Linked DNA regions of Homo sapiens: all the other regions are linked to region 1. Evidence: fine-mapped expression QTL. Tissue or cell type: whole blood. Region 1 holds a variant in brackets; each other region holds the start of a gene. All regions are shown on one strand. Distances are from middle to middle.

What was found. PIP is the estimated chance that this variant, and not a neighbour inherited with it, causes the effect.
Region 2: it holds the start of P3H3, and the variant in region 1 is fine-mapped to the expression of P3H3 in whole blood (TOPMed, PIP above 0.99). The same link has a PIP of 0.9 or more in neutrophils.
Region 3: it holds the start of GNB3, and the variant in region 1 is fine-mapped to the expression of GNB3 in whole blood (INTERVAL, PIP above 0.99). The same link has a PIP of 0.9 or more in neutrophils.

Annotation. Positions count from the first base shown.
Region 1 is chr12:6,782,873-6,787,121 of GRCh38, forward strand. It overlaps the pseudogene RN7SL380P. Among named protein-coding and RNA genes, the nearest start is that of CD4, 4.5 kb to the right of the region's middle. RefSeq lists a silencer at 3,911-4,205. The variant C/G (reference allele first, on the strand shown) is at 2,126.
Region 2 is chr12:6,826,582-6,830,708 of GRCh38, forward strand. It overlaps P3H3 (prolyl 3-hydroxylase 3), which reads left to right and starts at 1,826. Exons shown (of 15, transcript NM_014262.5): 1 at 1,826-2,357; 2 at 3,278-3,430; 3 at 3,772-3,973; 4 at 4,058-4,127. The coding sequence starts at 1,860. GPR162 (G protein-coupled receptor 162) reads left to right here. Exons shown (of 5, transcript NM_019858.2): 5 at 72-840. The coding sequence ends at 623. RefSeq lists enhancers at 483-1,051, 2,209-2,710, 2,449-2,508, 2,758-3,293 and a silencer at 2,189-2,298.
Region 3 is chr12:6,839,104-6,843,230 of GRCh38, forward strand. It overlaps GNB3 (G protein subunit beta 3), which reads left to right and starts at 1,822. Exons shown (of 10, transcript NM_002075.4): 1 at 1,822-1,930; 2 at 2,155-2,241; 3 at 2,483-2,521; 4 at 3,867-3,973; 5 at 4,071-4,127. The coding sequence starts at 2,185. It overlaps P3H3 (prolyl 3-hydroxylase 3), which reads left to right. Exons shown (of 15, transcript NM_014262.5): 14 at 1-37; 15 at 194-744. The coding sequence ends at 358.

The DNA of each region.
Region 1 (4,249 bases):
AGGTAGAGATGTTAGGGTTCAGGCCTGAGCCCCTGCTGCTATCCCTCCTTCAAAGGAGGAGATCAAGGAGCTTAGGGTCCCCCGCACAGGCCCACCCCAGGGTGGGGTTCTTCCTTTGAAGGGAATTGCTTTGGGGTGGGGTCGGTTCTATCTGCTCCACTCTGTGGCTGACAGTTTCTCCAAGGGGCTGCAGGTGTCAGCTGTCTGAGCCCGGGCTGAGCTCTGAAACGTGCCTACTCAAACTTCCCGTGGGGTAGGGGAGGCCCAGAACCACCCTCTGAGAGTGGCAAAAAGTGGTCCTGGAGCCAGGGGAAATGTGGATGGGGTAGAGATGGCATCGATGCTCCTAGACTTTGCTTCCCAGAGAACAGCCCCAAAGACCCCTCCCCTGCTCCCCATCCTCAAACCCTGCCCCCAGCCCCCTTTGCAGAGGGCGTCAGTGCTGCCAAAGATACTTCTGGTAAGGAGGCCACCGCAGAGTTGCACCTGGGGCTTTCAACTTTCCTGCAACCCTGGCTGCCCTAGGCCTCTCAGATCATCCAGTCTCCAGCACTCTGTCTGTAGCCTCTGACACCGGCTTCTCTCTCTTCCCCATCACTCCTTCCCCTGGCTTGGCCTCCTCCCGTTCTACAGCCTAGAGAGGCAGGATACATGCAGCAAAAATAGCCTCTGGAACTCCCCCTGTTCCATGCTTTCAGACATGTGATGGGGGCAGACAGCTTGACTTCCATTTCTTCTTCTGTAAAGTAAGGATAGTAACAGCAACACCTACCAAAAAGGTCTGGCATGTACAAATGAATGTGAAAGTGCTTGGAAAATGGAAAACCACTCTAGAGATGTGAGGACCATGGCACTGCTGAGCCTCAGAAGCTCCAGGTGAGGCAGTGGGCCTCATACCTCCCTCCACTGCTAAGGGAGAAGACTTCTCTTAGCTGTCATCCTGGCCTTTCTTCTTCTTTTTTTATTTTTTATTTTTTTTTTAGAGGTGGGTTCTCGTTATGTTGCCCAGGCTGGTGCGCAGTGGCTATTTACAGGCCCGATCCCACTGCTGATTAGCATGGGTAGCATGGAAATTGTGACCCATTGTGTGTCCGGCCTGGGCTGGCTCACCCCTCCTCAGGCAATCTGGTGGTTCCCCACTCCCGGGAGGTCACCACGCTGAAGCTGAACTCAGTGCAGACACCTGATCTGCATAGTGCACTACAGCCCAGAACTCCTGGGCTCAAGGCATCCTCTTGCTTCAGCCTCCTGAGTAGCTGAGACTACAGGCACTCGGCACCACGCCCCGCCTGGACCTTCTTTTTTTGGTTTGTTTGTTTTTGTTTTTGTTTTTGTATTTTTAGTAGAGATGGGGTTTCACCGTGTTAGCCGGGATGGTCTGGATCTCCTGACATCACAATCCGCCCGCCTCGGCCTCCCAAAGTGCTGGGATTACAGGCACGAGCCACCATGCCTGGTCCTGGACCTTCTTAATGCAGAGGAGAGGCAGTGCAATGAGGGGGACCACCCAGAAACTGGGGTCCAAGCGGGTGAATTCAAATCCCGGTTCCACCAGCTGTGGTTACTAGCTCTGAGACCTTTGACAACTGAAACTCTTCGGCTAGGCACAGTGTGACTCATGCCTGTAATCCCAGCACTTTGGGAGGCTGAGGTGGGTGGATTGCTTGAACCTAGGAGTTTGAGATCAGCCTGGGAAGCATAGCAAAACCCCATCTCTAGGGGAAAAAAAAATTTAGCTGGGTACAGTGGCACATGCCTGTAGTTCCAGCTACTTGAGAGGCTAAGGCGGGAGGATAGATTGAGCCCTGGAGGTTGAGGCTGCAGTGAGCTGTGACCGTGCCACTGCACTGCAGCCTGGGTGACAGAACGAGACCTTGTCTAAGAAAACAAAAAACTCTTCAAGCCTCAGTTTCCTCATCTGTATGGCCTGGACAATAATACCTATGTCTTATCACTCTCATGAGGATTAAATAAAAGATACAACCACATAAAGCACACAACAATGCCAAATGTTTACTATAAACTCACCCTCTCTCTTCCTTTTTTCTTTTCCTGTTTGGAAACCCCAGAGAGAGAGCCAGGTTCTCAGGACCGTTGACTTCCAGGCCACAGACTCACAGAGCTG[C/G]AAGTTCTCACACCGTCCATCGGGTCTGGAATCTGCAAACCGGTGGGCCCAAAGCTAGAGCCAGCCCTTGGAATGCTCTGTTTGCTCTACCCAGTGTCACGACAAGTTGAAAAAATTTGTTACCAATATTAAAATCAGGAGGTATTACATAAATGTCTGGTTTTCACCTTCTCTAGAAATTTTGGCAGAGCAGGCAACTCTAGGCTCACATGCCAGTATAGCCTCTACGGTCAACTCAGACAGCTATGCAGGGAATGGCTGCCCTTAACTAGCTGAGGCAAGTACTCTCTGGTTTCCCCCAGTCCCTACCCTTCCCTTTTGGTCACCACCAGTGTACCTTTCTCATTTGCACTACCTAGGGGGCTCCTGTAAGCATTTACATTTGTAGCCCTGCTCTCCTGCTCTTGTCCATACTTCTCTATTTATCCATTCAAAAATTATTTGGCCTGGTGCAGTGGCTCACGCCTATAATCCCAGCACTTTGGGAGGCAGAGGCAGGAGAATCACTTGAGGTCAGGAGTTCGAGACCAGCCTGGCCAACATGGTGAAACCCTGTCTGTACTAAAAATACAAAAATTAGCCAGGCTTGGTGGCGCACGCCTGTAATCCCAGATACTCGGGAGTCTGAGGCAGGAGATTCGCTTGAACCTGGGAGGCGGAGGTTGCAGTGAGCCGAGATCACACCACTGCACTCGAGCCTCGGCGACAGAGCAAGACTCTGTTTCCAAAAAAAAAAGAAAAGAAAAAAGAAAAAAAAATATTATTCAATAGCCAGGAGTTGCAGGGAGTTAGAATGAGGAGTCAGTATTTAATGGGTACAGAGTTTCATTTGGGGAAGATGAAAAATTTCTAGATGGTTACACAACCATGTGAGTGTACTCAGTCCCACAGAGCAGTACATTAAAAAATGCCTAAAATGGCCGGGTGTGGTGACTCACACCTGTAATCCCAACACTTTGGGAGGCCAAGGTGAGCAGATCACTTGAGGTCAGGAATTCGAGACCAGCCTGGCCAACATGGTGAAACCCCGTCTTTACTAAAAATACAAAAATTAGCCAGGCGTGGTGGCGGGCACCTGTAGTCCCAGCTACTCGGGAGGCTGAGGCTGGAGAATCGCTTGAACCCAGGAGGTGGAGGTTGCAGTGAACCTAGATTGTGCCACTGCACTCCAGCCTGGGGGACAGAGTAAGACTCCGTCTTGGAAAAAAAAAAAAAAAAAGCTTAAAATGGAAAATCTTATGTTGCGTGTATTTTACCGCAATAAATTTAATATCAATAAAATTTAATATATTAGGAAAATATTAAACAAGCATTAAGGGTCTTCCAGGGCCAAGGCATCTGTGAGGGTGCTGGGAACATAGTGCTAACTAAGACAGACACGGTCACCGCTCTGGCCTGTGAGCTAGACACTAAGCAGCAAATAACTTCATTGCAACTGGAAAATTGCTACGAAGGGAGAAGCACAGGGGACTGGGAGATCTTATCACAAGGAAAACTGATTTCAACTGAGGAACCTGAGTATCCTCTGAGACTCTGGGGAGGAAGTCCTGTGCAGGAGAATGGTAGAGCAACAAAATATAAACAGCCCCAATCTTGGCCCTGGAGGACGGCGTGCTGCTCCCTCTCTTCTGCACCACCCACCTCCACACTTCCTACATGTGAAAAATAACTTCAATCTTGTTGAAGCCTCTATTATTTTGGGTTTTCTTTTGCTTGTAGCAGAACCCAGTGCTTACCGATAGACAATTCTCCCAGTTGAAAGAAGGTTCTTTTGTGATAAGATCTCCCAGCACCTTGTGCTTTTTCCTTTGTAGCGCTTGTCGAATTGTAATGAAGTTGTTCGTTGTTTAGTGTCTATGTCATAAGCTGGAGTGGTGACCATATCTGTCTTCTTCAACATCACATCCCCAGCTACCTAGCAGAGTGCCTTGGGCTGGTACACGCTTAACTACGTACATGAATGAATGGAGCAGGGCTCAAAACATCAATGCCTACCAGAGCCTGCCAGGTAATGTAAATGAGAAAAGCAGACTGGCTGTGAACAATAGGGAGGGTGTTTGCTTTCTAGTCTGAAGGAAGAAGGCCTGAGGAGGATACATTTTCCCCACTTTGAGGAGCAACTCT
Region 2 (4,127 bases), 44 kb after region 1:
GTCCCCACTTGGTTCCTGCCTCTGCCTCTGTCCCTGCAGCACCTTCAGGTCTTACCCGCTCCTCTTCCCAGGTCCCCCTATCCCGGCGTCTGTCCCATGATGAGACAAACATCTTCTCTACCCCTCGGGAACCAGGCTCCTTCCTGCACAAGTGGTCATCCTCTGATGACATCCGGGTCCTCCCAGCCCAGAGCCGGGCCCTCGGGGGTCCTCCTGAGTACCTGGGACAAAGACACAGGTTGGAGGACGAGGAGGACGAGGAAGAGGCTGAAGGTGGGGGGCTGGCCAGCCTTCGCCAATTCTTGGAGAGTGGGGTTCTGGGGTCAGGTGGGGGACCCCCACGGGGTCCTGGCTTCTTCCGGGAGGAGATCACCACCTTCATCGATGAGACACCTCTGCCTTCTCCGACTGCCTCACCAGGGCACTCTCCTCGTCGGCCCCGGCCACTGGGCCTCTCACCCCGCCGACTCTCCCTTGGGTCCCCTGAGAGCAGAGCCGTTGGACTTCCTTTGGGACTAAGCGCAGGGAGACGCTGCTCCCTGACGGGGGGTGAAGAAAGTGCAAGGGCTTGGGGAGGATCCTGGGGCCCAGGCAACCCCATCTTTCCCCAGCTGACCCTGTGAGCCCAAGCAGGCCTGCTGAACTCAGAGGAGAAAGCCTGAGTGAGTAACACCTCATTCTGGCCGAGAGTAGGGCAGCTGCCTCCAGACTCTGGGGAGACGGGCGCTAGATTTGGGGCTCAGAAGGCCCTGCTCTCTCCCATCCAAGTGACCAGATGCCCTACTCAGCTTCCATCACCCCTAGCAATATGTATTAAAGTCTGAAGTGTTGCCATGGAAACCTCAGTGTCCAGTGTACTGCGGTGGAAAGGGGCTTGGAGGGTGGAGTGGCTCACAGGGGACACGACAGAGCAGGGGCAGCAGACAGAGGCACAGAAGGACACATGGAGAAATGATCACATGCTCCACCAGGCAGCCTCGCACAGGGAAGGCTGGGAGGAGCATATCCTGCTGGGGGCGGGGCTTGAGGACACACATCTTCGTTGGTTGGGGTATGAAGGATCTCTGTTCAGATTTGTTGAGGTGGTTTTAGAGCGTGGCTCCAGCCCCAGTGCCCAACTCTCCTTCTAACCTCAAATCCATGCAGGGGCTCACTTTATGGGCAGGAAAGGTTTTGGGGCTGATGCAGTGTCCCGGGCCTGGACACCTCCTCCTTGCTGCATTTTAAAGCTCTTTCTCCAAAGGAGTGCAGGGGTGGATGAGTGTGTGTGTGGGCGGGGGTGGGAGTGCAGGGGTGGATGAGTGTGTGTGTGGGGGAGTGCAGGGGTGGATGAGTGTGTGGGGGGGGTGGGAGTGCAGGGGTGGATGAGTGTGGGGGGGTGGGAGTGCAGGGGTGGATGAGTGTGGGGGGGTGGGGGGGGGCGAGGGGGGGATCGGCGTCCACACTCCTTTTTCTGGACCCAGAAGCGTGTGTGTGGAGGGAACACAGCCCCAGTAGTTACCCCCAGACCTCAGGGGCTGAAGTCACCGCTGGGGCTGAAGTCATCCTTCATGGATGCCCAGGCCTGCTCCAGTTCCCGCCTTTTGCCCTCCTCCTCCCAGTTTCTCCCTCTTATTCCACACTAGACCAGCTTTGTCCACTCAGCACTCTTCTCTCTCCATCTTTTCACATGGGCCTCTCCCACCATCGGGTCTCAGCCCCATCTTCTCTCTCTCTCTCTCTCTCGGCCTCCCTCATTATTTCTCCCTCTCCCTCCGCCTCTCCATCTCTCCTTCCTCCCCCTCCCTCCCCTTCCCCCCTTTCCTCTCCCTCCCTCTCGGCTCCCGCATTTCCCCTCGGCTGCCGGCGGCTCCGACATCATGCTCCGGCTCCTCCGGCCGCTGCTGCTACTGCTGCTGCTGCCTCCCCCGGGGTCCCCTGAGCCCCCCGGCCTGACCCAGCTGTCCCCGGGGGCGCCCCCGCAGGCCCCCGACTTGCTCTACGCTGACGGGCTGCGCGCCTACGCGGCCGGGGCTTGGGCGCCGGCCGTGGCGCTGCTGCGGGAGGCGCTGCGGAGCCAGGCGGCGCTGGGCCGGGTGCGGCTGGATTGCGGGGCGAGCTGCGCGGCCGATCCGGGCGCCGCGCTCCCCGCCGTGCTTCTCGGGGCCCCGGAGCCCGACTCCGGGCCGGGACCCACGCAGGGGTCCTGGGAGCGACAGCTTCTCCGTGCAGCGCTCCGCCGCGCAGACTGCCTGACCCAGTGCGCAGCACGGAGGCTGGGCCCCGGGGGCGCGGCGCGGCTTCGCGTGGGGAGCGCGCTCCGGGACGCCTTCCGCCGTCGGGAGCCCTACAACTACCTGCAGAGGGCCTATTACCAGGTGGGGAGCGGGCCGGGCAGCTCCGAGGGTCCCAGCCCTCACCACGACGCTGTCCTACTTTGCGTTGCCCAGGAGTAGGCGGAATGCTGTTGCCCGGGCCCCGCACGGGGCTGGGGAGCGTACCGCGGGCCTCTGCGTAGGAGCTGGCTAAGCGACCGCGAGGACCTCTTGAGATCGCAGAGGAGCAGCCGAGGGGGAGTGCGAGCAGAATGGGAATGGGGCGGGGAGGTCGTGAGGTGGGACGGGAGCAGATCGAAGATGGAGGGACAGGGCCGCCTCTTCCTAGGAATGAAGCGGAGGCGGTGGGGGCGAAACCGGCTCTCGGACGGGAAGTGTGCGTGGGTGTGTGTGTGTGTCGGGGGTGGTGGTGAGTGTGAACCTTCGCTTGGGGCAGGAGGTAGCTTCGGAAAGGAAGGAGCAGACGGAGGCAAGGTTGGGGTCCTCCGAGGCCAGACCTCTGCGGGCGGGGAGGGGACAGCACGCCGCAGCCGCCGGTACCGCAGCAGTTGCCTACGTGGCTGGGGAAGCGGGGCGCCGGTTGTACTCACCTCAGCTCAGGGTCCTAGAGACCTGCGGGTTTTGCTGGTCGCTGAGGTCTCCCCCACTTCCCCACCTCACTTAAGCCATCACTTCCACCTGGTCTCCCAAATTGAGGTCCTGAAGTCCTGAGACCCATGTCCCACCCAACTCCGACGTCTTTAGATCCCCTTTCCCTCGGTGCCAGCCTTCTGAGAGTCCCAACGTTCTGGCCTCTAGGGGATCTGCAGTTCGGGCGGTGGGCGGTTCTGATTGGCCAGTCTTCCATGAGGCTCTGGGGCACCCAGAGTGTGTGTCTGGGGTAGGGTGGGGAGGCTGGCCAGGGGGCAGAGGTCTGCCCCCCGTCCCAGGGCTCTGATGCCCTCCTCCCTTCGCCTCCTCAGTTGAAGAAGCTGGATCTGGCAGCTGCGGCAGCACACACCTTCTTTGTAGCAAACCCCATGCACCTGCAGATGCGGGAGGACATGGCTAAGTACAGACGAATGTCGGGAGTTCGGCCCCAGAGCTTCCGGGACCTGGAGACGCCCCCACACTGGGTGAGAATCCCAGCACCACCCCTGTCTTGCCACCAGCCTTTTCCTGGCTGGATACACAGGCCTCACTAAACTGTGCGTTGTGCTGCTTGAGCATACAGATGGGGTAATGATCCTCAGCGACCCTGGCTGGGAGTCCTTCTCTAGGACTTCGTTTCCTTCCTGGATGATCACTGAAATCTGATGTTCTAACATTATGATTCTGAGGCCCACCCTTATTCTTCTCCACGGTGAAGAGGGACATGGAGTCCTTGCCCCAAATGAGACCAACACCCCTCTCCTCTCTACCTCCCAGTTTGGCAACCCCTGGATCTTAGGTGACTGACTGCTCCCTTCCCCAACAGGCAGCCTATGACACTGGCCTGGAGCTACTGGGGCGCCAGGAGGCAGGACTGGCACTGCCCAGGCTAGAGGAGGCTCTTCAGGGGAGCCTGGCCCAGATGGAGAGCTGCCGTGCTGACTGTGAGGGGCCTGAGGAGCAGCAGGGGGCTGAAGAAGAGGAGGATGGGGCTGCGAGCCAGGGGGGCCTCTATGAGGCCATTGCAGGTAAGGGTCCCGTGTGTGAGGGGGTGGGTCGGTGCCCAGGGAGGGGCATGAACAAGCTGAATGGCTTATGGGTTTCCTCTGCAGGACACTGGATTCAGGTCCTGCAGTGCCGGCAACGCTGTGTGGGGGAAACAGCCACACGCCCTGGTCGCAG
Region 3 (4,127 bases), 56 kb after region 1:
ACTGTGGCACACGTGGGCACCTGAGCACAGGGAGCAGGTAAGGAGCGGGGTAGGAAGGGATGTGGTTCTCCTGGTGCGTGAAGGGTGGGCAAGGAGCCCCCGAGAAGGCTCACAGTCGGTGAGGGTCAGGGGCTGAGCTGACCCAGGGAAGGTGGGTGCAGGGAATGGGCCACACTCTCCTCCCCAACCCCAGGAGTGGATAGAAGCCAAAGAACTGCTGCAGGAGTCACAGGAGGAGGAGGAAGAGGAAGAGGAAGAAATGCCCAGCAAAGACCCTTCCCCAGAGCCCCCTAGCCGCAGGCACCAGAGGGTCCAAGACAAGACTGGAAGGGCACCTCGGGTTCGGGAGGAGCTGTGAGTGGCTGAGCCAGCTCCTTGAGGATGTGGCCACTTGACTTGTGGAAGGCCATCTTGATGCCAGGACACACAGGAAGCCCCTGTGTGACATCAGGAGCAGAACAGCAAGCTCTCTGTCCCTGCACCCCCACCATCTTGGGGACCTACAAGGGCCTGGACTCAGAGGACAGTGCACAGGCTAGCCTGGAGCTCACCAGGCCTGGGGAGCTGGGACGGGGCCCCGCTGCCGGACCTGCAGCCCTGGACAGATGGGGAACACTGTGCCTCCCTGAACAGAAATGGCAGGGGAGGAGGCTGATGCTTTAAATGAAGAGGATGGTGGGGTTGGGAGGTATAACCCTGCTCCTCTCTCCCAGTCTGTGCAATAAAGGTCGTGAAGATCTCTCAGCCAGGGGCCAGTCAAGTGTATCACAGATTCTGTGATGGCTGGAGGTGGGGGTGGCTCTGGCTGGCCTGGGAGGAGACAGGTGTCTTTGGGCCTCCCAGAGGCGGGGCGCCTGGAGCCTGTGATTTGTCAGGGAAATCTCAGCCACCTGCTCCCCTCATGCAAATGACCCAAGCCCCTGGCAGCTGCTCCTTAGGCCTCCAAGTGTAAGCCCTGTCTTCCCTCTCTGAGCTTTGCTGAGACTTAGGGCCGCCTGCTTTCTCTCTGACCCCTGCTTTCACAGCCTCGAGAGGGCAAGGAGGGGGCCAGACCCCAGCCTGGGAGCAGCGTGCGGGCCTTCCCTCCACTTGAAATCCGTTGCCCGCCCACAATAGGGGCAGACCTGTCCATCCTTCTCTGTGGGTCCCCTGTACCTTTCTCCCCCAACAGGATCAGACCCAGAGGCAGCTGGTTGGGGTTTGTCGAGAAGAAGGATTATCCAGATCAGTCCTTTCTAATCTCAGCTCCTGCCTGTACCCTCCCATACTCACCAAACCCTCTTCCCCACCACCCTGAGCTGAGGAGCACAGTTTGAGGTACTGACAATGGGGCCATCTATCACCCTTATATCCCACCTCCTGGCCTGGTTGCTAAGTGGCCCTGACTGCCAAGATCATCACCATGGATGGGGGCCGGGACCAGGGGGGCCACTGGAGCTGTAGTTGTCTGCTCCTTTGCACCCCTCCCAAACCCCAACCCTTAATCCTCACAGCTTTGCTCTAATCCTGTGGGGCCTGATGCTCTTATCTCTGCCTGCAGAGACTGACCAGGGAAGCACCCCTTCACCCCCTCCTCTCTCAGGGCTTGTGGTGGGGGCTGCCCCTCTCTATGGCCCCACACTCCTGCCCCCAACCCTCCTCCCGGCTGGGCCCAAGTCTCTCTGGAATCCGTACACCTCCCTCCCTCCCCCCACCCCTTCCCCCCACCCCTGCCAGCTGATTTCATTTGCCTGACGTTGTGGTTGGCTCTACCCTTCCCTGTCAGGCCCCCCCAACCCCCCGCCGGTCGGGGCCAGGCCAGGCCAGGCCAGCTCCTCTGGCAGCAGAGCCTGGGCAGGTGACGGGCGGGCGCGGGCGTCGCAGCTGAGGGAGTAAGGAGGCTCCCAGGAACCGGAGCTGGAAACCCGGCCGAGGTCCAGCCAGAGCCCAAGTAAGAGGGAGCTGGCCTGGGCTCTGCTCTCCTGGGCTGGGGCGCAGGCAGGGCTCAGGCAGGCTGGGGCTGGACGCAAAGGACCTCAAACTTGGAGGGCCTAGCTGGGGAGAGGGTGCAGCCACCCAGTCGTTTCCCTGTGTCTTGGAGTCTGGTGTGGGCACGAAGGGCAGAAGCACAGCCTGGTGGGGGGTTCCTCAACACCGACCCCATGTTCCTGGCAGGAGCCAGAGTGACCCCTCGACCTGTCAGCCATGGGGGAGATGGAGCAACTGCGTCAGGAAGCGGAGCAGCTCAAGAAGCAGATTGCAGTAACTCCAGAGCCCTACCCCTGGGGCCCCAGAAAACAGCTGGGGACATGAGGAGCGTGGCCCAGGGGGAGGGGGCTGGGTTTGCTCTTGAGTGACTAGAAGTGACCAGGGACTTTCTAAACTTGGTTCGCATATTTGAGACCCCCAAGCCCCAGAGCCCCAAGACCAACCTGCCCTGAAGGCCCATGCACCTGCCACCCCCACCTCGCCCTTGCTCCCCTGATGTCTGCTTTCCCTGCAGGATGCCAGGAAAGCCTGTGCTGACGTTACTCTGGCAGAGGTAAGACCCCCTGTCCCCCGGAAGGCAGGGCATGGGGGGAGGGGAAGGGAGCTCCCCGACCCGCAATAGCGCGTTGCTCCGAGCATTAGTACAGCACGTCCTTGGAGTGAGGAAACCCATTAATTAATTCATTCGACCAACATTTTAGCGGGACCTGCTCTGAGCCAGGCACCATATTGGATGCGAAAGATGCGGACACGGTTCCTATTCTCATCCGTAGAACAAGAGTGACCACAGCCCCCTCCCAGGGCCTTGAAGATGAAGAAGCGATAGTACTTTGTAAATTATAAAGCCCTTGTAGACTCTAGCTGCTAGTTTTCTATGCTGTATTTTGTCAATTCTAAGATGCACATTTCTTCACATTTTGACATCTCTGAAATCAAGGTGCATTCAGCAATGGATCATTGTTTCAATTAGAATTGACAGCATCTTTTCTTTCTTAGTGATGCATCTTAGATTGGATTAAATATGTTAATAGTGAACACTTTTTATGAGCCAGATACTGGGCTAAGCTGCATAAATACCTGATTTCATTGAATTTTCATGATATCTCTGTAAGGTAGGTGCTATGATAAGCCTCATTTTACACCTTGAGTAAACAGACTCAGGGAGGTGAAGCAACTTGCCCAAGATAACAAAGCAGGCCGGGCGCAGTGGTTCACGCCTGTAATCCCAGCCCTTTGGGAGACTGACGTGAAAGGATCACTTGAGCTCAGGAGTTTGAGACCAGCCTGGGCAACATAGTGAGATCTCTTCTTAATATAAAAAAAATTGCTTTTAACTTTTTAAAAAAAGATAGCAATGCAAGTGATGGCAAATCAAGTCTGTTCACTCTGGACCCCCAGCCTAAGTCTAAAATGTGGTTAGAGCTCAAGGGGCATAGTACCACAGATTTCAGGAGGTACAGTTCAGGGTCATGGTGATGCCCCAGGCACCCAGTTAAAAAGCTAGCCGTGCTGCAGCGGTGGGTGCAAGCAGGCTCCTCTCGGCTTGGGAGAGCCAGCTCTGTGCATCTCTTCCCAAATCTGTTTCCAATGACCTCACATTGGCAGCTGGAAACTGGTCAAAGTGCAAGTATTCGTATCGTGGAAATCACCTTCCCACCTTCCTCACCAACACTGGAGAGGTGCTTGTTAAACACTTACAAGCAACACACCTCTGGCCATGCATGCATCTCTTTCCCACATCAGTCTAAGACACTCCAGGGCAGAGACTTATTTCTCTAAGGCTGGGGGCCTGACCTAGAGCCTGGCACAGAGCGGGAACTTGTATAGATCAGTGGCAGTGACAGACATCTGGGCACGTAACCTGCTCACCCTGATATTCAGTGCCCCTCTCTCTGCAGCTGGTGTCTGGCCTAGAGGTGGTGGGACGAGTCCAGATGCGGACGCGGCGGACGTTAAGGGGACACCTGGCCAAGATTTACGCCATGCACTGGGCCACTGATTCTAAGTGAGGCTTGGGGGGGAACCGAGAATGGGAGGGTGAGAGCGGGAGTGAGGAAGGCGGGAAGGGGAGGCTTGCATGATATGGGATGCCCTCTCCCCAGGCTGCTGGTAAGTGCCTCGCAAGATGGGAAGCTGATCGTGTGGGACAGCTACACCAC